Regions from separate parts of the Homo sapiens genome. Here all the other regions are linked to region 1. The links come from fine-mapping of genetic effects on gene expression. A gene starts in region 1. Each other region holds a variant in brackets. All regions are shown on one strand. Distances are between the middles of the regions.

Region 1 (7,656 bases):
CCCAAACTGCTGGAATTACAGGTATGAGCCACCGTGCCCCGCTGTGAGTCATACCTTAATTGAACAGTGTGTATCAGGCACTGTGCTATCACTGAGAAGAATGAAGTATGAAAGAAAGAAAGCTACAGGTATTTGATGCCAGCATAGGCTCAGTTGTCCTTTGATGTGGCCCTGAGCAGCACTCCTCCCACTCTCCTTGAAGACCACTTAAACCTCGTCATCTCTGTCAGCAGAAGGATGAGTCTGTCTTTCACTGAGAAAGTCCAGACTGTCAAGCATGAATGCCATCTTTACATCCACTTTCTTTCCATCTCAGGGAAAGGAAAGTCCCTTTTACTCAAGAATAACCCTTTCTCCCCAGACCCACCCTTCCCTGGTCTTCTGAGACCTGTACCATTCTGCATACGCTCTCTTCTGACCCCAGCCTCACTTCATTTCTTTGTCGTGGTCTAGCTACCAGCCTGTCACCTTCCCTACAGAACCAGACCTTTTCAGGAGTCAATATTTACTATCTCTACTTCCTCACTCACCATTCCCATACCCTCTTTAGCTCACTGCAGTCTGGCCTCTGCCTCAAGCACCCCCTAAAACTGCTCTTGCTAGTTATCAATGATCTCTGTGGCCAGGTCAGGTGGATCCTTTCCAGGCCTGATCTTATTTGAACTCAGCTGTTTCTGGCACCATAATGCTGATTCCCTCAAATGCCCTCACCAAGCTCTGTGGGCCCAGCTCCTCTGGGTTTTCCTCTTATTTCTGGCCCTTATCTCTCAGCTACTGTCTCAGCTCCACTTTCTCTCTGTCCCTTAGGCAGTGCTATTCTCCAAGGGTCTCATTTTTACTTTTCTTATGCTCACATCCACTGGATGAGCTGATTCCCTTCCATGGCTTCAACTACCATATGGGTACCATAGCTCATACGGATACACAGCTCAGTCATACATCTTCAATCCAGAACTCTCAATCCTGTTGCCTACTATTGACCTTCACTTAAATATACCACAGTCACTACAAAAACATCTACATAGTTGATGTTTCTCAACATCTTTCTCCCCAAACCTGCTTCCCCAGGATGCCCCATTTCAGTGAAACCTCAGAATTAAACCGTTAGGAACCCAGCAGCTATCCTAGACTCACCTCCTCTCTTGGGCCCATGTCCAGTCAGTCTCCAAGTCCTGTCAGTCCTGCCCTGTGCACCTTTCTCACATCTGCACCTGATCACCACCCCCTGTGGCACTGCTGTAGATCTGTTACTCTTCCTCCTGGAGATCACCTCACCTGCCTCCTAGCTGATCCCTCTTGTCTCACTCTCATCCTATCCAGTCTGCTGCCACTTGTGCTTCCTAAAACACCCATCTGATTGTGTCACTGTGGTACTTAAAATCCTGCTATGGGGCTGGGACCCATGGCTCATGCCTGTAATCTCAGCACTTTGGGAGGCCAAAGCAGGAGGATCACTTGAGGCTAGGAGTTTGAGACCAGCCTGGGCAACAAAGGAAGATCCTGGTTCTACAAAAAAATAAAATAAGAATTAGCCGGGTGTGGTGGCATCACCTGTAGTCCCAGCTACTTGGGAGGCTGAGGTGGGAGAATTGCTTGAGCCCAGGAGTTCGAGGCTGCAGTAAGCCAAGATTGCACCAGTGCACTCCAGCTGGGGTGACAGAGCAAGGAGACCCTGTCTCAAAAAAAAAAAAATATCCCACAATGATTCCTCACATCCCTAGGATGAAACCATAGCTAGCTAGCATGGTGTACACAGCACACCCAGCCAACCAAGGGCATCTCTCCAGCTCTGATTTCTGAGTGCTTCCATTGCACGCCTACACTCCAGCCCTTCTAGACTATTTGCAGTTCCCCAAATAAGCCATTCTCTCTCTCCTTTCCATGTATTTGCACCTGCTGCTTCCTTTGCCTTGCATATCTGGTTCCTGTTTCCTTCTTCCTAACTCACATTCTATCCACTCCCTCACCTGGCCTACCTAACTCATATTTGGACATCAAAATGCATCTGCTCTGTGAAGCTTTCCTTTAAGTTCCTGGTTCTCACGGCACCCTGCACACAACTCTGTCACAACATGTGCTATTGTGCAAGCATTTTTGCTATTGTCGGTCTCTCTTTACTACTAGAGTTCCTTGACAGCAGAAGCTACATCTAATTTATTTATATATCCTTGGCGTTTAGCAGAGTGTCTGGCTTATAGTAAATAAGTATTGAATAAATAAAAAGGGGCTCTCAATATTGTTATTAGACCACAATCACCACTTAATTCATCTTATTGTGCACCACTTCATATATCCCAATCACTTCTACCAGAAAAAAGATCATCTAAGTTCCGAAATCAGTGTCCACCATCATGCTAAACACACACATAACAAACATATTGTGGTGTTAACCAGAAGACAGAGACAGTGTGAACACAGATGTGTAAAGCATGACCTCTGGTGGCTTTCAGAGGATTCTCTCCCACTCCATATCTCATTTCTCTTCAGAGAACAGTCTTCCAAATAGGGAAATGGGTAGCTTGAAGGAACCTGGGCACTGCCATAACTTATACTCACAATTGATTTGAGCTGCCAGAGCCCCTTGTTCCTCTAGACTAGAACTCTACTTTCCTCTGCTCAAAAACGCCTCTGAAACGTTAGCCGACTTGAATATGGAGATAGGGAGGCAGGCAGAAAACAGACTTCCCTGGTACCCGACTGAGTGTCTTCACCAGAGTCCTTTATGTTACCATCTCTGCTCATCACACAGACAGAAAGAAGACTACCGGCGACCCTACTGGGAATCTGCGCAAGAAACCACAGTACCTTGGAAGCCCGCAGTTCTCCTAAGTAGGAATCATCGTTATCTAATGTAGGCTGCTGGAAAGGGTCCCGGGTGGGAGGCATGGCTAAATGCCTAACTCTTTTAAGAGGGATGGGAGGCCCGCTCAGCCGCAGCACAGCCTCACTGGCATAAGATCCCGGGTCCCAATTGTTTGGAGCGCTGGTTTCGGTTGCCAGGCAACTGCCCAGCCATCTATGACAGAGGAATTCCCTCAGAGGAGGGCGCCACCTGGCGGCTGACCACGGGAGGCCCCTGGGGAGGAAGCTCCGGGGACTGCAGAGGGAACGTTCCGCTGAGCGGGCCCGAGACTTGGAATTGCACTCCTGAGCCTCGGCGGAAAAGTGCTGGCTGCTCACCATCAGGACTTCTGCAAAAGACTTCAGTTGAGGAAAGAAGTCCTGAAAGATGACCCAGAAATTTCCTTCTCCCTCGCACCTAACAAAAGGCTTTCAAAGCCATGAGAGAATGAGGATGTCAAGAGACCAAAGAGGGCCGGGCGCGGTGGTTCACGCCTGTAATCTCAGCACTTTGGGAAGCGGAGGCGGGCGGATCGCTTAAGCCCAAGAGTTCGAGACCAGTCTGGGCAACATGGCGAAACCCCGTCTCTACAAAAAGTAGGAAAAAAATTAGCTGGGCTTGGTGGCACGCGCCCGTAGTCCCAGCTACTCGGGAGGCTAATCCAGGAGAATCTCTTGAACCCGGAAGGCGGAGGTTGCAGTTAGCCGAGATCGCGCCACTGCACTCCAGTGTGGGCGAGAGAGTGAGACCCTGTCTCAGAGAGAGAGAGAGAGAGAGAGAAAGAGAGAGAGAGAGAGAGAGAGAGAGAGAGAGAGAGAGAGAGAGAGAGAGAGGCCCACGTGCGGCGCTTGGGAAATTGCGGCTAAGGCAAACTCCTCGCTTAAACTCGGATCAACTACAGTGTCAGGGCTTCTCTTCTAGCCGGTTGTAAAAGCACGGATGGATTTGGCGGGATGTAAGATCTCCAGGAGTGGCCTTCGTAGGAGGGAACACGTACTGGGGCCTCTTCCAGGCGACGACGTCTGGAGGGTGATCTCTCCATCTTCTTTCTCTCGGTTCACACGCCACGTGTGCAACATCGGAGATGCTCATAAAATAACCCCTGGCCCGAAAGGGCAGTAGAAAACGGAAATTTGTTGGCTGGCTTGGAGGATGCTTCCACTGTGTTCTTCACACGAGCCCCGGGCCTGCCTGTTGGGCCGGTTGCGCACCCCGGGCGCGCGCTCTCCCGCGCCCACGCCGCGCGCACCAGCGGCGGCGGCTGCCATGGCGACCCGCAGGTGAGCTGCAGAGGCGCGCGTGGTCCCTGCCCCACCCGCGCGGAGCCAGAGAGGAGGCGGTTGTCAAGGCGACGTGGGTAGGAGGAGAGGACAGAGGGAGGAGGAAGGATGGGCGGTGTTGGCGTAGCCGCAGGGAGGTGACTGAAGCGAGCCTGGCCTCTTGCATCCTCCGCCTGTGTACCTCCCTCCCCTTTTTTTCCGCCTTCTGCCAGCAGAAGCAGCAGCCGCAGCACCTGAGCCGCTACTGCCGCTCACTCAGGACAACGCTATGGCTGAGCCTGGGCACAGCCACCATCTCTCCGCCAGAGTCAGGGGAAGAACTGAGAGGCGCATACCCCGGCTGTGGCGGCTGCTGCTCTGGGCTGGGACCGCCTTCCAGGTGACCCAGGGAACGGGACCGGAGCTTCATGCCTGCAAAGAGGTACTGCCGCCCCCCTACCCGATCCCGCTTTGGTCACAAAAGTCTTGGATCCAGGCGGAGACCTTGGGGACCCAGGCGCAGAGAGTTTCAGACGCCACGGAGTTTAGATTTCTTTGGGGATGAGGCGTGGGGGGAGGGAAGAGGAGCCAGTCTGGCGTCATGAGGAGGCCAGCACATTGGAGGACTCACGGATAGATCATCCTCACAGATTGGGATGCTGAGCTCAGCGAGAAAGGTCCCAGCCCCAAGAAGGGGAGCTACCTGGGTACCTGAACTCAGAATGAGGGAGGCAGACGAGTTATTTTCCAGTTAGGATGAACTCACCTTAAAAGTGGTTGACAAGAAAAGATTATGCACAGAGAAGCAAAATAGGAAGAGGAAAGAAGAGTAGTGGGAGAGGAAAGGAGTTAGGAAGGCCAGAAAAAAGTATCAGAGCGAAGTGGTTTTATCATGGCTACACAAAACGGAGTGTGAAGGTGGGAGATGTGCGAGAGGGATGATAGGATTCCAGCTCTCTAGTTCCTTGTTTATTAAACATCGGTTAGTGCAGACTGTAAAATGTGTCTCCTCCTTATAGCTTGGCCTCCCCGCAGCGTACTATGTTTAGTGTACCTGACAGTACACGACTCACCTTTTTGCAGATTTTGAGTTCTTCAATATCTTGTGTTCTGCCAACCTCTAGTCTCCTTCTCTGACTTAACATATGTCAAAGTCTTTTTCAAGGTATTTCCAATATGTTGGAAGCAGAATTCAGACAATAGGTAGTCAATCTCTTATAACCAAAAATAGCTTTTGAAAAGTCATCTTGGAGGAACATAAAAGGGCACTAGCAGCAACAAAACTAAGTCATTTCTATGTTATTGAAATAACAATATTTGGTTGTGCTCTGAGCAACTTTTTTAGAAACCATATGGCAGAGGCAACAATAAGATATTTACAAGAACTACGTTGGGGAAGGCAAAATAAAAGTTCTGTTATTTCTGTGAAATGTGAAGGACTTCATAAAAAGTCAAGCATCTAGCTCTGTAAATTTAATCCCAAATATCAAGCTTGACTAAGGTTTTGAGAGGTTAGAATATATATATAGATGTATTTTCTTTACTTTAAAAAATATATGTTTTAAAATAGAAATGAGGTTTCGATATACTGCCCCGGCCAGTCTCTAACTCCTGGGCTCAAGCGACTTCCCACCTCGGCCTCCCAAAGTGCTGGGATTATAAGAATGAGCCACTGCGCCCAGCCCAGAATATTTTTTATAAATTGTTAGTGTGAACTGATTGGCAACAACTCCATCCCATATGGAGATAAATTCTTATAAAGATGTTCTGTGTCTACAGCACAGCAGGTCATAAAGAAGTCAGGTGTGGGGGGGAGGATTTTTGTGTGAATAAAGATACTTGATTTTGAAGATTCATGAATATGACATAAGTGACCCCAGTGAGTGGGACTTTTGATAACCTTTATTAGCTCCAATGACAACCTGCCCTGGGCCATCTACATTTCCACCTAGCCGCATTATGACCTGTTTTAGAGATCGCAGGGAACAGTATGATCTTATCAGTGACTGGCTCACTGGCCTTGATGGCCTGTGGTCTAACCAACCAAAATAATGAGACCAAGAAAGCCCACTTGCCTAAGAATCAAACAAGGGAGTTTCCTGAGTGGAAGGTAAGAATCATACAGTTTAACTACCAATTCTTGTTGAGATCTTTGTCAACAATGGAAAATATGAGACATTTCAGAAATTAAGCACTTCTATTATCTTGGTTTGGAGGAAGGGAAGAATATTGATACTTGAGAACTCGAACTTGTGTACGAATTTTGCCTTTGGTCCTGTTTGAATAACCAATATTTGCCTAAGCAAAAGGTCTTGCCACAAAGTGTAAGCTTAAGGTAGTGGAAAGCTATGGAGCTCAACCTACCAGGGTTTCAGTCCTGTTACTTACCACGTGGTTTTTGGATTTGTAGAATGGGTATCAAAATAACACCTACCTCAGAAAGGATTGCTTTGAGTATTGAAATAGAAAATACATTGGAAACACAAAAGAGAGTTACCCACCCTCCTTCTCTGTTCAGCTTCTTTCCCATTAGATCCACACCCCATGCCAGATTGGAAATGGCTTAGGAGGCATGCCCATTTGCCACAGGCGTCAGCAAGTCCTGTTTACATTCTCCTTGAGCAAACAGTGGCCATTGAACACCCTCAACTCCAAAACAATCAGGGAGAGAATAAACCCATTATTATAGTATTCATTTGGCAATATGAACTGATCAAACAAGTTTGGGGGCTTCCAACCCCAAATGGTGAAAAACCAATTCAAGGTAGACCAGCTCTTCTCTGTTCTTTTTTTTTTTTTTTTTTTTTGGTGAGACAGAGTCTGGCTTTGTTGCCAGGCCAGGCTGGAGTGCAGTGGCATGATCTCGGCTCACTGCAGCTTCCACCTCCCAGGCTCAAGCAATTCTCCTGCCTCAGCCTCCCAAGTAGCTGGGATTACAGGCATGTGCAACCACACCCGGCTAATTTTTGTATTTTTAGTAGAGATGGGGTTTCATCATGTTGGCCAGGGTGGTCTTGAACTCCTGACCTCAGGTGATCCACCCGCCTTGGCCTCCCAGAGTGCTGGGACTGCAGGCGTGAGTCACTGTGCCCAGCCACTCTTCTCTGTTCTTAATCTTCATACGAATTTCTTGTGAGCTGATGTTGGGTGTTGATGGCAGGACTCTTATCAGGCCAAGGCTGACCCTAATGACAATAATATTGTTCCAGCCTTGTTCGTGAAAGCTGAGGCATCCCTCTGGATGTAATCAGGAAACGGAGAGGTTTAGCTTGAGGCCTAAACTGAAGTGGCAAAGTGGGAGTTCTAGACTGCTGGACATGTGCTGGGGCTTGGCATTCCTCTCACAGTTTTATAATAATCAGGGTCACAAATGGAACTAAACATCCTGTATGATATTCGTTTTCATGAATCGTTTCTTTAGCCAAGGCTAAGTGCTGACTGCGAGCCAAAGGAGCATTTCCCAAGGTGCAGTGAAGCAAATCAAACCAAAGAGGAGCAGAAAGCTGCCTTTAACACGCTCTACCTTATCCTGAGGCTCCAGGGCTAATTGGCCTC
Region 2 (7,656 bases), 74 kb after region 1:
TCATGGCTCTCTGCAGCCTCAACCTCCTGGACTCAAGTGATTCTCCTGCCTCAACATCAAGTAGCTGGGACTATAGGCCTGCACCACCACGCCCGGCTAATTTTTGTATTTTTTGTAGAGACAGGGTTTGCTATGTTGCCCAGGCTGGTCTTGAACTCCTGGGCTCAAGAGATCCTAAAGTGCTGGGATTACAGGCATGAACCACCATGCCCAGCAGTTAACATTTTTCATTAGGTATAAATCAAGAGTTAAAGATAGTGTTGGGCTGGTGCGGGAGGCGGGAGGATCGCTTGAGCCCAGGAGTTCCAGGCTGCAGTGAGTTAAGATTGTACCACTGCAGTCCAGCCTCAGCAACAGAACAAGACTCTGTCTCTAAAAAATAACAATAATAAAATAATAATAAAGAGGCCGGGCACGGTGGCTCACCCCTGTAATTCCAGCGCTTTGGGAGGCCGAGGAGGGCAGATCACCTGAAGTCAGGAGTTCGAGACCAGCCTGACCAACATGGAGAAACTCCGTCTCTACTAAAAATACAAAATTAGCCAGGCATGGTGACTCATGCCTGTAATTCCAGCTACTCAAGAAGCTGAGGCAGGAGAATCACTTGAACCTGGGAGGCGGAGGTTGCAGTGAGCCAAGATCGTGCCACTGCACTCCAGCCTGGGCAACAAGAGTGAAACTCCATCTCAATAATAATAATAATAAAGATAGTGTTGGGATGCTTGGGTTGAGGCAAGTGGGAAGAACCTTATGTGTTAGGTGGAGTCCAAGGAAATTACAAACCTGGTTTGTGTAGAATGATTGCATGAAGAAAAGGAAATTTCCAAGGTGGAAGGCCTTCATTCTAGGCATATATTAGAACATTCATAGAAAGGCTTGGAATGAGTATGAAAGCAAAATCATGTTTTACTTCAACACTTCAGGAGTAGAAAAACCACACCCAGAGTCAAGACACTAAGGCACCTGGAAGATGGTGAACTCTCTGAACCTCCCCAGGTTTCAGGGAACTTAGGTTGGCAGTGGTTAACCTGCAAGAAGCTGTTTCCGTCTACCCTCCTTGCTGGTCCTTTGGCCAGGCCACTTCTCCCTCCCTTGCCCCATGGGGCGGGGGACGGGAAGCGGCAAACAGTGGTTTCTCATCAGCACCTGGAACAGGTGCAAAGGGAAGCTTGAGCAGGGTTGGGGAACTGGAAATGACACTATTGAGACAAGGGGAAGGGTGAGTGTGCAGGATTTTCTACTTCCGGCAATATTTGTGTGGCAATGCACCCAGGGACTTGGGAGTCACAGGGCCATGAAGAGGCCAGGAGCTCAGCTTTCTTATGTAACTCCAAATATTTCTTCTTGCTTTGGCAATTTAGAGAAAGGATCTTCTTCCTGTAACGTGCGCCCAGCTTGCACAGACAAAGATTATTTCTACACACACACGGCCTGCGATGCCAACGGAGAGGTGGGTAGTACAGTCTTGGAGCCCCTTAGCCCCAGATGGACTGTCTCCCACTCCCTGAGGTTTGCCACCATTTGGAACTTCAGCAGTCAATGACATTGGCACTAGTTAAAACCCCACAGACCTTTGAGGTGACCCTAGGGCTAGGTGGGGTGGGGGGCAAAACGAGACCTCTTCATTCATTTTCCGGTCAGAAACTGTTTTTGCAGCGTTTGTTTCACTGTTTATGCACATATGTTCTGTTTCAAAAACCCACTTCATTCTCTCTTGCTTGGTTTCTTCTATTTGCCGAGCCACTCCGGCAGAGCCTGCCTGTCCGTACACAATGTCCTCCCGGGGCTCTTCAGGCTCACCCCCTCGGCACTGTTTTGTGGGCTGGCACGGGGAATGGATTCCTGCCTATGGTCTGACTTGTTCCGTTTCTGCTGCTTCTCTTTCCTCCAGGCTTTCTGCTTCAGAAAAGAACTTTCCCTCCTAGTCTACACTGTCACTGAGTCAACAAGCATTTTTTGAGGCTGACTGATATGTCAGGCCTGGCACTATAGGCTGGGGAGTCAGAGACGACTGAAACAAGCTCCTGCCCCCAGGGAGCTCACAGTCCTGTATGAGAGGCTGGAGAGAGGAGAAAAACGGGCCCAGTCAAGGCAACCAGAGGGATGTGCAGGGAACTGGGGGAGCCCAGAAGAGAAGCGACCAGGACTTGGGGTGGGGGCAGCAGAGAAAGCCTCTCAGAGGAGGCCATTTGTTCAACAGTCAACAAATATTTATCGAGGAGCGACTCTGTGCCAGGCACGGTGCTAGGTGCTAGGCATGCATCACTTAACAAAACTGAGGGAACATCTAGCCCTTATGGAGCTTAACTCTTGTTGGGGAGGGAGTGGAGAGAGAGATAATAGACAACAAATGGGTATATAATATAGCAAATGGTAGTAAGTGGTAGGAAGGAAAAAAAAAAACCAGGATTAGGAGAGAGAGAATGAAGGAGGGTGGTGCCACTATTTTAGAAGGGTAGGGATGTCCTCTCAGGAGGTGACATTTGAGCAGAGACCTGAAGGAGATGAGGGAGGAGCCGTGGAGCTTTCCAGGCAGCAGACACAGCAGGAGAGGAGGCGGCAGCTGGGCCAGGTGGGTGGAGAAACAGTGTAAGTGAGCAGGGAAGGGCTTGAGGTGCACGGAGAAGGATCTGGCTGAGCTGTCTGTATCCCTAAGCTAGAGATTCTCAAGAGGATAGAACTAGGAGTTGGGCATTCTGCACTCAGCACTAAGCATGATGCTTGGCTCTTAGGGAGCATAAACATTTGCTGGCTGGGCGGCTGACTGAATTCTCCCTTTCCTAACTAAGCATGGGTTAAAGTCTGGTCCTTAACAATGAATATTTTGCACAGTCATCTCTTACCAACACCACCTCCCCCACGTATTTGGGGCATCATCCCCTTCTCCAGCAGCCAAGAGAGAATGGCTGTGTCTTGTCAGTTGCACCTTAGACTCAGTTCTGTGGTGTCTGGTATTCTGTATGACCTTGTGAACATTTATTTTCATTTTCTTGGTCTCAGCCAACTCACTAATAAAAGGCAGACAATTAATCCTGCTGCTCTTCTCCCTCCTGTTCATAACATGTGACTGAATGTGGCTGTCTTTCCTCCCTTCTGCCCCATTCTCTTCCCTCCCTGGGCTCACGCCAAGGCCTTCTGGGTCAGTACCGTGCTTGCTGCCTGAAAGCCCGGGTGTCTGCCTTGGCCTGACCACTGCCGGGGCCTTTAGATGCTGGGTCAGACCAAAGCCTGTGTTCCCGCCTTGCAGCACAGCCAAGGCCCAGCTCAGAGGAGGAGCACTGAAGCGTGTGCTTTCAGGAGTGCGCATGAACATGCATTCCCCAGCTGTTCCTTGCAGACTTCTGCTTTGTGCCTCATTCCCGCACTGGTTCTGCTCAGTCTGGTGATTGAGTTTGTCTTCTGAACAGTATTTTAAAATCAAGGGACACACCTCGAGCTGGCTCCTATGATTACATTTCTGACCTTGGCTGTGCCTCAGTTGTTTCTCAGGGACCAGGATGGCCCATCCATTGGGGTCAGTGAATGTGCTGCTCCAAGAGCTGGCCCGAGACAGTTTGCCAGCTCCTAGGACTCTCCTCTCCCTGAGACTCACAGGAGGCAGGTGAGGTTCAAGCCTGGGGCTCTGGCTGTCGCAGCCCTCCGCAGGGAAGAGGGCCGAGCTGAGCAGGGGAAGGAGGAGCCCAGGGCTCCCCATCAGTTAAGGCAGTCTGTGTCCCTCCTTAAGGACTTGTTTCTTATCTTGAAAAATATGGACAGAGGCCTTATTCATCCTTCTTTTCATATGTATGGTATCTGCACAGATCATGTTCATCAACCCCTCAGTTCAACCTATAAGGGCACGTTTTTGTCTGTGACTCGATCTGAGGGCCACATGGGAAGAATGGAGCTGCCCACCTTCACCCCTGACTCAGCCGGGGTCTCCTGCGGGTCATCTCCACTTCTGTACCCAATGCAGGGGCCATGTTTCATTCATCTCTGAGACACCAGGTCTGGCACATAGATGCATTAGGATTTACCCAATAAATAAAAGAGCAAAGAATGTACCACTCAAAAAATAAGTGGGGACATCTCAGCCACCCCCTCAGTCCCCGGGGGACATCTGAGCCACCTCCACCCTTGTGCCTTTCTGTGTTCTGGGATTTTCACCAGCTGCTTTTCCTGTGACCTTGGTAGCAATAAGATTCTACAGTGGAATCGGAGCTTTC[T/C]CTAAGACAACTGGTCCCACATTCTCTGTCATAAAGTCTTCATTAGAGCTATTCCTTGTCACCCAGGCAACATTCATTTGGCAGATAGTGATTGAACACAACCATGACTCAGGCACTGGGCTAGGTGCTTGGGATACATCCGTGAGCCACACAAAGTTCCCCACCCCAGAGGAGCTCTTACCTGGCCCAGAATCTGGATCTCTGCCCCCAGCCCCTATCCTCAAGGTAGAGTCCCAAAGATGTCCTAAATCTCACACAGGCTGAGTTGTGCTTAATCCATTTCTGCAGACACAACTCATGTACAAATGGGCCAAGCCGAAAATCTGTAGCGAGGACCTTGAGGGGGCAGTGAAGCTGCCTGCCTCTGGTGTGAAGACCCACTGCCCACCCTGCAACCCAGGCTTCTTCAAAACCAACAACAGCACCTGCCAGCCCTGCCCATATGGTTCCTACTCCAATGGCTCAGGTAACCTCCTCACCACCCCACTCTCTGCAGCACATCGACTGTGTGGGTGGGCTGTGTGGGCACTAACAGTGGCCAGCTGAATGCAGACTCTGCCCTTCCAAGGGAGGCAGTAAGGAATAAGGACCAGGCCACCTTTGAGGACTAAATTCAGGAGAAGAGAGGTCAGGGCTGGCCTCGTCTGCAGGTCAGAGTCATACTTGAGGCTGCCTTCCTTCCTCCTTGCTCCAACTGCAAATGTGACTCAGGACTGAAGGTGCCCAATCCTCAAAGCAGGGCTTCCAGCATATGGCAGAGATGCTGACTAGGCTTACAGGGCTGGGATGACCAACCCCACACAACCAAAACCTATAAGCCATGCTGCCTTGGGGGGATTTGAGTACCTGTTAAAATGAAAGCATTTAATGATAATATGACAATAATATGAACTATATGTATCAGACTAGAAGGTACATTTAAGTTTTGAAATGGAAATTGGGGTGGGCAAATAGGATGGTTGGCATATTGGAATGAAGGCTCAGTGTTTACATCTTGAGTTAAATACATTGTCAGAATGTTTTTGAGTCAACTTGATACAACTTCCTGCAGCAGTACTCAGCAGCCAGGCTTCTGGGCTGCCCGCTACTGTTGCAACTTGTCTGTGTGGCAGCAGCTCCAGTCAGAGTGACTGCAGCCTTCCCACTGAATGCATGGATCTTGTTTGTGGTTCCCCAGACTGTACCCGCTGCCCTGCAGGGACTGAACCTGCTGTGGGATTTGAATACAAATGGTGGAACACGCTGCCCACAAACATGGAAACGACCGTTCTCAGTGGGATCAACTTCGAGTACAAGGGCATGACAGGTAATTGCCTCTCCCTGTGCCATGAGCTGTCAGCTCCCTGCACACCCTCAGTTCTTCCAACTTCACATTTCTTCATAATAGTGATGTCTGAGAAAAATAAGCTAACCATGTCATGCATTCCCTTGAAAGTTCCACTCCTCATGGACATATGTTCTGCCAAGACAGCTTTAGAGGAAGGAACAGAGCTAGAAACATGAGCGTGCACTTCAAAGGTCTTGCTCTGAGAGCTTCAGGGTTTTTGACCAAAGTGGCAGGATAAGTAACACGGTTCATGTTCAGTGGTGGTTCTGGGCGCCTCAAAAGATGGTGTCAAACCTCCCTTCCAGAGTGTCATCTGGGTGCACATTTGCCTTGCACCCAAGAGCACAAGGCATTAACTCTCCTCTTTCCTTTTCAGGCTGGGAGGTGGCTGGTGATCACATTTACACAGCTGCTGGAGCCTCAGACAATGACTTCATGATTCTCACTCTGGTTGTGCCAGGATTTAGGTGAGGAATCCAAAGCCCAGGGGAGTCCAGGCCAGCTTGGCCATATCCGAATCCCACGTATTTTGGAATATTGTAGAGGAGAGGGCTTCCGGGGTTGTGTTTCATTTCATTTCAAATGTCAGTTGAGAACAGAGGGTACAGTTTGACCGAGGTAACCCAATGCTATCACGTTTTTCAAGTTGCTGCCCATGTTGATTTACCGACTGCTCTCTCTCCCGTATAGCTTCTCCCAGCCATTAGTCACGTGCTATTCAAATTCTTCCTCCTCACAGCATCACTTAAGATTAGAAAAAAAATAAAAATAAAAAATAATGGGGTCAGAAATGCCCATAGACAGTTCATCTTTATTTGGGGCAAGAAGATTGGGAAGGATTATTCTTACTGTATTTGTCCCCATATCCCAGGAAGACCTAGGGCAACACGAAATTTGTTTCCCACTAAACAAACAAACAAACACGCACACACACACACACACCTCCTGGCAGTGTGGTGTGGTGGAAGGAACACCAGACTGGAAGACAGGGCACTTGTGCTTTGCCGCTTACTGGCCGTGCGACCTTAGGAAAAGTCACTTCACCTGTTCAGGCTTCGGGCCCCTCATCCATAAAAACAGTGTGTGATTTAAGACTAACTGAGGTTCAGATGGCTTTTCCAGCCCGCTGGTTAACACAGCTGCATAGAGATAAGCTGAGAACTGGAGGTCCTCAGAATTCAGGCAAATGGCTAAAGCCAAAAGGAAAGCCGTGAATGAATTTCCAAGGCCAAAGTGAACTCTTCTGCCCATATGTGCTCTAAAGATAAGAAGCAGGCACTGAATATGCTTCCCTAGTGCCAGTCTGACACCTTCATTTCCTTCTTCGAGGTCCCTGCTTCCCATCCCTGGGATGTTGCTCAGTTTGCCTTCCCTTAACACACATTACTCAGAGCTAGCCAGATGAATGAAGCCTGTGTTTGCAAGGTGAGCAAACTTTTTAGGCTTTTTTTGGAATAACATTCAAAAAGTACTTTCCAATTTGCAAATCTGATCGTCATAGTAAAGTGTTGCCTCATCCCCCATCCCCACTACTACCCCAGCCCGCTTGGGCATGGCTCTCTCTTTCCCAAAAGTAGGACCAAACGGAGGACTTTGCTGGATCACAAATTCTGCTCCTTTAACCCCGGCAAAGCTCCCCAGTGCTGGAGAGACAGCTGCTGAGTAAATGTCAACAATTTACAGTCTTATGATAGACGTGCTTCTCAAACATAAATGTGCACACGAATCGCCTGGGAATCGTATTAACATGCAGATTCTGATTCACTGGGCCTGGGAGGAGCCTGAGGTTCTGCAGTTCTAATAAACTCTGGGAGATGGCCATGTTGCTGGTCTGTGGACCATATTCTGCTAGTGAGGTGATACAGCATTTTATAAAGGACCGCCACATCTGTCATGCCTTCAGGTCTCCCCGCGATGATGGGGGGTAGGTAAGAAAGAGATTTCATCACCTCCATTTTACAGATAAGGAAACCGTGGTTTGGCTAGGTCAAGGTCACATAGCTAGGAGGGCAGAATTGGATTTAGTCCACACGCTTTCCATCATACTCAGAACTTAACCCTGTCCCCCAGCAGACGCTCTGCTGTTGTCTGGGCTCTTCAATAAGCACTGCCTGGCCTTTAGAA
Region 3 (7,656 bases), 51 kb after region 1:
CCAAAAATAAAGCTTATTCCTTTTGATCCTGACGCATTATTAGATTAGCAAACTTCAAAACTTGTATTTTTTGTCTTAGCTCCTTGACGTTATACATGTTATGCAATCAGGCTATCACGTGGGTTAAAGGGGGACATTAATTCTATTTTTCTTATGCATACAGTAATACAAAATACCTCTGGGCTTGAATATAGTTTTAGGTAAGTGTAGATTGTAAAATACTTGTCAGAGCCAAAATCATCACTAATTCCATGGTCTGTTGTTTATTACCAGATTTAAAGGAGGAAGAAACGCTTAAGGGCATTTGGCACATCAATTGTGTTTTCTTTGTTCTGAGTGGAACTGTTTGTTGTTGTTGTTTTACTTAATGCTTGATTTGGTTGTTTTGTTGTTATTCCATTTATTTTTAGCTCAGGTAAAACAATTAAACTATGAGTTTCCCATTGCACAGACAAATTAGGGATGAACAGGCTCAAGTGAGAGCACATCACCTGCCTCGGCCAAATATATTTTCATAAAATGCAATTGGGAATTCATAGTCTTTCTGAGTGGAAAGGAGCATAAGAAACACAGGGAAATAGGGCCAGGCGTGGTGGCTCATGCCTGTAATCCCAGCATTTTGGGAGGCCAAGGCAGGTGGATCACAAAGTCAGGAGTTTGAGACCAGCATGGCTAACATGGTGAAACCCCGTCTCTACTAAAAATACAAAAATTAGCCTGGCGTGGTGGCACTCGCCTGTAGTCCCAGCTACTCGGGAGGCTGAGGCAGGAGAATCGCTTGAACCCAGGAGGCGGAGGTTACGGTGAGCCAAGATCATCCCACTGCACTCCAGCCTGGGCGACAGAGCGAGACTCCGTCTCAAAAAAAAAAAAAAAAAAAAAAAAGAAACACAGGGAAATAGAAATACATACCACTTCTGTGAGGAGCCTTTGTAAATTTTTTGTGGACTAAGGCTTCCATTTAGAACATCCTTCCATTTAGAATGTCCTCGTTCATAAATTCTACACTTTGGAATAAGAAAAATTCCACCTATTTCTAGCCTGTTCCTTAGTTACCTTTCCCACGTTCCTCTGCTCCATAAGGACACTACTTAAACATAACAACAAAGAGAGTCACACACAAAAATGATTTCTAGGGACTAGACCATGGCTGGGTGGAAGGGAATGATCCAAATCATTGTAGTTCTTGTACTCGGTTCATAATCATCAGCTCCCTGCCCGGGGTCCCAGGGCCCATTTCTGAGAGGATGAGCATCAGTAGCCATGGTGCTGGGAAGTGGGTGGGAAGCTGTTAATGTTTGATCACTGCTAATGCACATTTCGCCCACTGTTCTCTCCCCTGCAGTCTGAGTACCACTATGAGTACACGGCGTGTGACAGCACGGGTTCCAGGTGGAGGGTCGCCGTGCCGCATACCCCGGGCCTGTGCACCAGCCTGCCTGACCCCATCAAGGGCACCGAGTGCTGTAAGCAGCTATCCTGCTCAGGGCCTCCCTGTCACTCAGCTTTGGTCTCTCCCCCAAGTCTCCTGCCATCCAATCTGGGCCCTTCCTGGCAGAGCAGCTGCATTAAGGAATCAGATCTTTTCCCCAATTAGTCCCCACATCCCAGACCCTTATGAGATTTGGTGCAGAAGTATTTCATGAATGCAAACTGGATATCTGAATTTGCTTTCATTTTTTAAAGGAATTTAAATCCCATCAGTGGATACAGCATAAGCAATGCCAGCTGTGTGCACTCAGATATTCTTTTCTGTTTGCATACATTTTCATTTTTGCCTTGTATGTCTCTCCAATCTACACTCACTCACCAGCCACAATCAGTCATTAGGCAAGATTGAGATTTGCTTTCATTCTTAAAAAGGAAGTCAGAGAGGCTAAGTTTCTGCAGAGACGTCCTTTAAAATGCTCCAGGCATCACTTCAGGAGACAAGAATCTTCTTGACTGTGGGTCTGATTGTGCAATAGGAAAGGCAGTGGCTTGCCGCAGCCCCAGCACCCGCCTCTGTGACTCTGCAGTCACAACTTTTCTACAATTGGCAGCTGTTTCCCCTGCATTATTCTTTTAGGAATGCAAAGGGAATAACAAGAAAAACCAGGCACTAGATTTAAGGAATTATCTGAAGAGTTGGAAAGGAGTTTGAAGATATTTAAATTCTAAAATCAGCTTAGTACAGTGCCTGGTTGAGTAAGTGAGCAAATAAATACTTGTTAAATTAATGACTGGATATTGCTGAGACCTGAGCAGAACTGAGGTGTGACTAGTGGAAACAAATGAGCCATCTTCATTGAACTCTGCTGACTTCAGTGAGTCCCACTATGTGTTAGCACCATGATGTGCACATGCAGTGTGAACTGCAAAGACAAATAAGGCACACTCTCTGCTTTCAGAAGCTTAGGGTGGTGGAAAGTGCAGACATTCATTCATTCACTCATTGTTTCAGAAACATTCATGAAGCTCCCAGTCTGTGCCAGTCACTGAGCCAGCCATCCCCAGAGGAGCGCAGAGCCTAGTGGGTGGCAGACATATATGATATGAGAAAGAATGAGAGTTACGAATATTTAGGGATCAGGCATAGCTGGGAGGGCCACTTGAGCAAAAGTTTAGACGTGGATGAAGAGTGACACATTTGAGGAAGAGCTTGTGGTCCAGGGTAGAGGCAACACAGAGAAGGTGATGGATGGAGTTGAGGTGAAAAAAGATTTGTAGTGGGAGGTCAAGCTGGGAAGTTAGGCTGCAGGGAAATCGTGGAAAACTTTGAATGCCAGGCCAAGAGCATAATTCTAGAACCAAAAGGGAGTGCCTGTTTATTTTTAAAATAAGGAGAATAATAGTACATACGTGTTTTACTTTTTATTTTTTTAAAGACAAGGTCTCACTCTGTTTCCTAGGCTGAAGTACAGAGGTGCAATCATAGCTCTGTAGCCTCGACCTCCTGGGCTCAAGTAATTTTCCCACCTCAGCCTTTTGAGTAGCTAGGATTACAGGCACACGCGACCACTCCCAGCTAATTTAAACATTTTTTTTTTTGGTAGTGACAGGGTCTCACTGTGTTGCCCAGGTTGGCCTCAAACTCCTGGGCTCAAGTGATCCTCCTGCCTTGGTCTCTCAAAGTGTTGGGTTTACAGGTATGAGCCACTGTGCCTGATCACATCTGTTTTAGAAAGGTACCTCTGACCACAGAATGAGCAAAAATAAGAATAGGGAACTAGTTAGGAGGATATTGCAATGATTGAGTTAACAGGTCATGAGAATTCCACCTAGCATGGTGGCAGTACAACCAGAAAGGCAGAGGCCAGAGGCTCAAGGGAGAAATTCAAGGCTGAAGGGCCATGTGTCATTCAGAGGGGTCAGCACAAGAGACCTTGGCATCTTCTTCACCAGAGAGCTCTCAGAATGGTCAGGGCACCTCTCCAAAGGAAACGAGTGCCAGGAACAAGCCCAAAGTCCCACAGCAAGGCAGAGCATCCGTGGCCCTAGATCTATTTTTTTTATAACAGCTTTATTGGTATATAATTTATATGCCATGAAATTCATTCCTTTAAGGATAAAATTCAGTGGTTTTTAGAATATTCACAGCAACCATCATCACTCTCATTTCACATTTTAATCATCCTAAAAAGAAACCTCATATTATTAGCAATCTCTCCCCAGGCCCCTCCCCACAGCCCCTGGCAACCACAAATCTACTTTCTGTCTCTATGGCTTC[A/G]CCTCTTTTGGCCGTTCCATACAAATAGAATGACACATAGCAAGGAATATCACTGCTGAAAAAAAAATTTTTTTAAGAAAAATAAAATCAAATCACACAGTAAATGCCATGGCCCTAAATCTTAGTGGGCCAAACTCCTAGACCCCAACCCAGCGCTCCTCCCTTCAGCTGCTCGCAGCCCATTCACTTCTGGGGCTGCAGTGACCTCACTGCCCCACCTTGTCTCTGCCCTGTTTTCCAGCCTTCTCCTGCAACGCCGGGGAGTTTCTGGATATGAAGGACCAGTCATGTAAGCCATGCGCTGAGGGCCGCTACTCCCTCGGCACAGGCATTCGGTTTGATGAGTGGGATGAGCTGCCCCATGGCTTTGCCAGCCTCTCAGCCAACATGGAGCTGGATGACAGTGCTGCTGAGTCCACCGGGAACTGTACTTCGTGAGTCTGCACACACCCCCACCCCACCCCCAGCCCACTGGGTAAGGGGCTACAGGGCACACTGGACAGCCTCCTCCGCTGCCCCTCAGGCTGGGCAGGGAGGATGGAGGGAAGAGGAAGCCAGGCTGCCAGGGTGAGGCCTGCAGCTGTGCCCGCAAGACCAGTGGATGTGACTCTGCCTGGCCCACTCTTACTGGCCTAAACTTACCAGTGATGGACAGGCATTTGTGGGAGGTAAAAAACATGAGGAAATAAGAGAGTGGACAAGGGGGGCAAGGGTTAAATGGCCCAGTCTATTTAAAACAAAACCCAATTGGAGCTGGGCACAGTGACTCACCCCTGTAATCCCAGCACTTTGAGAGGCTAATGTGGGAGGATTGCCTGAGGCCAAGAGTTTGAGACCAGCCTGGGAAACATAGCGAGACCCCTGTCTCTACAAAAAGTTAAAAAATTTGCCAGGTGTGGTGGTGCATGTCCGTAGTCCCAGCTACTCGAGAGGCTGAGGCAAGAGGATAACTTGAGCCTAGGAGTTCAAGGTTAGACTGAGCTATGACCGCACCACTGTACCCCTGGATAACAGAGCAAGACCCTGTCTCATTGAAAAACAAAAACCGGCAGGGCGCGGTGGCTCACGCCTGTAATCCCAGCACTCTGGGAGGCCGAGGCGGGTGGATCACTTGAGGTCAGGAGTTCAAGACCAACCTGGCCATGGTGAAACCCCGTCTCTACTAAAAATACAAAAAATTAGCCAGGCCTGGTGGTGCATACCTGTGATCTCAGCGACTCGGGAGGCTGAGGCAGGAGAATCGCTTGAACTGGGAAGCGGAAGTTGCAGTGAGCTGAGATCGCACCATTGCACTCCAGCCTGGGCAACAAGAGTGAAACTCCGTCTTAAAAAAAAAAAAAAAAGAAAAACAAAAACAAAAACCAAAAAAACCAACCGGATTTCCACCACGGAATTTCAGATCAGCCAATATACTTTCTCAGCTTGACTGGAACACAATATGCAAAGCTTGGGTATCTTCCCGGCTTGGGTGCTAACTTCTTCTTCTTCTTCTTTTTTTTTTTTTTGAGACAGAGTCTCACTCTGTCGCCCAGGCTGGAGTGCAGTGGTGCCATCTTGGCTCGCCACAAGCCCCAGCTCCCAGGTTCAAGTGTTTCTCCTCCCTCAGCCTCCTGAGTAGCTGGGTTACAGGTGTGTGTGCCACAATGCCCGGCTAATTTTTTTTTTTTCTTTTTTTTGAGATGGAGTCTCGCTCTGTCACCCAGGCTGGAATGCAGTGGTGCCCTCTCCGCTCACTGCAAGCTCTGCCTCCCGGGTTGACGCCATTCTCCTGCCTCAGCCTCCCGAGTAGCTGGGACTGCAGGCACCCGCCACCACGCCCAGCTAATTTTTTGTATTTTTAGTAGAGATGGGGTTTCACCGTGTTAGCCAGGATGGTCTCGATCTCCTGACCTCGTGATCCACCTGCCTCGGCCTCCCAAAGTGCTGGGATTACAGCGTGAGCCACCGCACCCAGCTAATTTTTTTGTATTTTTTTAGTAGAGATGGGGTTTCACCATGTTGGCCAGGCTGGTCTCAAACTCCTGACCTCAGGTGATCCACCTGCCTCAGCCTCCCAAAGTGCTGGGATTACAGGCATGGGCCACCTTGGCTGCTAACTTCTGAAACTGATTCTGCCTAGCCTTTGCCCAGTGCTGGCTGAAATCTTCCAAATGCTGTGAGACCCCAATGACTAGCAAATTTTCTTGGAAAGCTCAGTCCAGGGTGCTTGGAGAACTGGATATCTATTTCAGATATGTCTTTTGTAGGCCAGGCACTATTCTGGATGCTTTACATATATTATTTTCTCTAATTCTCACAAGAACCTTGTGAAATAGGCATTACTATTTCTATTACAGAGACGAGGAACTGGAAGCTCAGCAAGGTTATGACCTGCTCTTTGTTATCCGGTTTACAGCCGGCGAGATTGAAATTCGAACCCAAGCTTCCACTGCTCCATAATGCCACATTCAAATAACATTTATTATGGGCAAGGCAACACTGGGTCCTAGGGAGCGAAAGTGGGGGGATATGAGGATGTGAAAGGCAGCCATATTGTTCCTTATTAAATATGGACAGTGAATACAGGAGGAAAGCAAGTGAAAGTTTCACTTATACCCAAACAATCAAATGGATAAGAAGGACTCAAGAATTGTATTACACTTGGATTTCTAAAAACCGGGAGCAATGTTTCCCATTCCTATACTTAAATCTTGTCTAAGCCAAGCAGTGGCTATTTAATCTGTAGTCCAATTTTAATGTTATGTTATTTTAGAGTTCAACTTGGTGTGTCAGATTCATTAGCATGACAATACTGGAGGCAGAGATAAAGCTAGAGAGCTTTAAAGCTGGAAGGAGCGGGAATGTGTGGGTTAAGACAACCAACTCCCATTTGAGTCCTAACTGAGAATGTCATTAGGCCCTGGACAAGGTGCAGACATGGCTCAGTCAATTCCTACCCATGTAAAGGAAGGATTTCTTCTCTCTCTGGGGACTGCACCGAGAGTCCAGAAATCATTATCTCTCAGAGAGGCAGGATGTGGGTGGGTTAATAACAACTTGTGTTTCCACCGCACGGACTATTTCAGGGCCTGCATCTTAAGGCATCCCACGACATCCCGGGGAGGGAGGGAGAGGATATTTCTCTGTCAATGGAGAGGAAATGGCCATCTGGAGAGCTTTTGTGGTTTCCCCATCATCCCTCAGAAAGGCAATAATTGAGCTAATACCTAGAGCGCAAGTATTTGGCTTTCCTATTCAGCTGTGCAGCTACCCAAATCCTGCCTGCTCTGCCTCAAGAGACTCCAAGCTCATCTCCTGCTTCCATTCCCAGCCTCCTCCAGGCCTGTCCACTCAGCAGCCAGATTCATCTTTCTTTTTTCTTTTTTTTAAGAAACAAGGTCTCACTCTGTCACCCAGGCTGGAGTGCAATGGCGCAATCACAGCTCACTGCAGCCTCAACCTCCCCGGGCTGAAGCCATCTTCCCACCTCAACCTCCCGCGTAGCTGGGACTGCAGGCTCATGCCACCACACCTGGCTAACTTCTTATTTTTCTAGAGACACGGTTTCACTTATGTTGCCCAGGTTGGACTCAAACTCCTGGGCTCAAATGATCCTTCCGCCTCAACCTCCCAAAGTACTGGGATTACGGATGTGAGCCACTGCACCCAGCCTCATCTCCTTAAATCCAGTCACAGTACTTTCCCGCTCAAAACCCTAGATTCAATGGCTACCAATTGCTCTTGGGATAAAGTCCACTACCTTCCCACAGCCTGCAGGGCCCTGCTGCCCTGCCCCCTGCCCTCTGCTTGTTTCCCCAGCCTCTCCCAAGTTCCTTCTGTCTTCACTTGCTGTGTTCCAGCCACACTGACCATCACACTCCTTCCCCTCCTCAGGGCATTTGAACATGTGACTCTCTGTCCCCTCTTCTATGTCTCCTACTTAACCCTCAGGTCTCTACCTAAAAATC

Evidence for each region.
Region 2: its variant is fine-mapped to the expression of ELAPOR1 in whole blood (TOPMed, PIP above 0.99).
Region 3: its variant is fine-mapped to the expression of ELAPOR1 in whole blood (INTERVAL, PIP above 0.99).

Annotation. Positions count from the first base shown.
Region 1 is chr1:109,109,794-109,117,449 of GRCh38, forward strand. ELAPOR1 (endosome-lysosome associated apoptosis and autophagy regulator 1) reads left to right here and starts at 4,322. Exons shown (of 22, transcript NM_020775.5): 1 at 4,322-4,543. The coding sequence starts at 4,391. It overlaps CFAP276 (cilia and flagella associated protein 276), which reads right to left and starts at 2,954. Exons shown (of 5, transcript NM_001245025.3): 1 at 2,806-2,954. The coding sequence starts at 2,886. RefSeq lists a silencer at 4,074-4,143.
Region 2 is chr1:109,183,684-109,191,339 of GRCh38, forward strand. ELAPOR1 (endosome-lysosome associated apoptosis and autophagy regulator 1) reads left to right here. Exons shown (of 22, transcript NM_020775.5): 8 at 1,362-1,450; 9 at 4,494-4,671; 10 at 5,383-5,511; 11 at 5,909-5,999. Among named protein-coding and RNA genes, the nearest start is that of SARS1, 26 kb to the right of the region's middle. The variant T/C (reference allele first, on the strand shown) is at 4,206.
Region 3 is chr1:109,160,549-109,168,204 of GRCh38, forward strand. ELAPOR1 (endosome-lysosome associated apoptosis and autophagy regulator 1) reads left to right here. Exons shown (of 22, transcript NM_020775.5): 2 at 1,346-1,466; 3 at 3,951-4,143. Among named protein-coding and RNA genes, the nearest start is that of SARS1, 50 kb to the right of the region's middle. The variant A/G (reference allele first, on the strand shown) is at 3,710.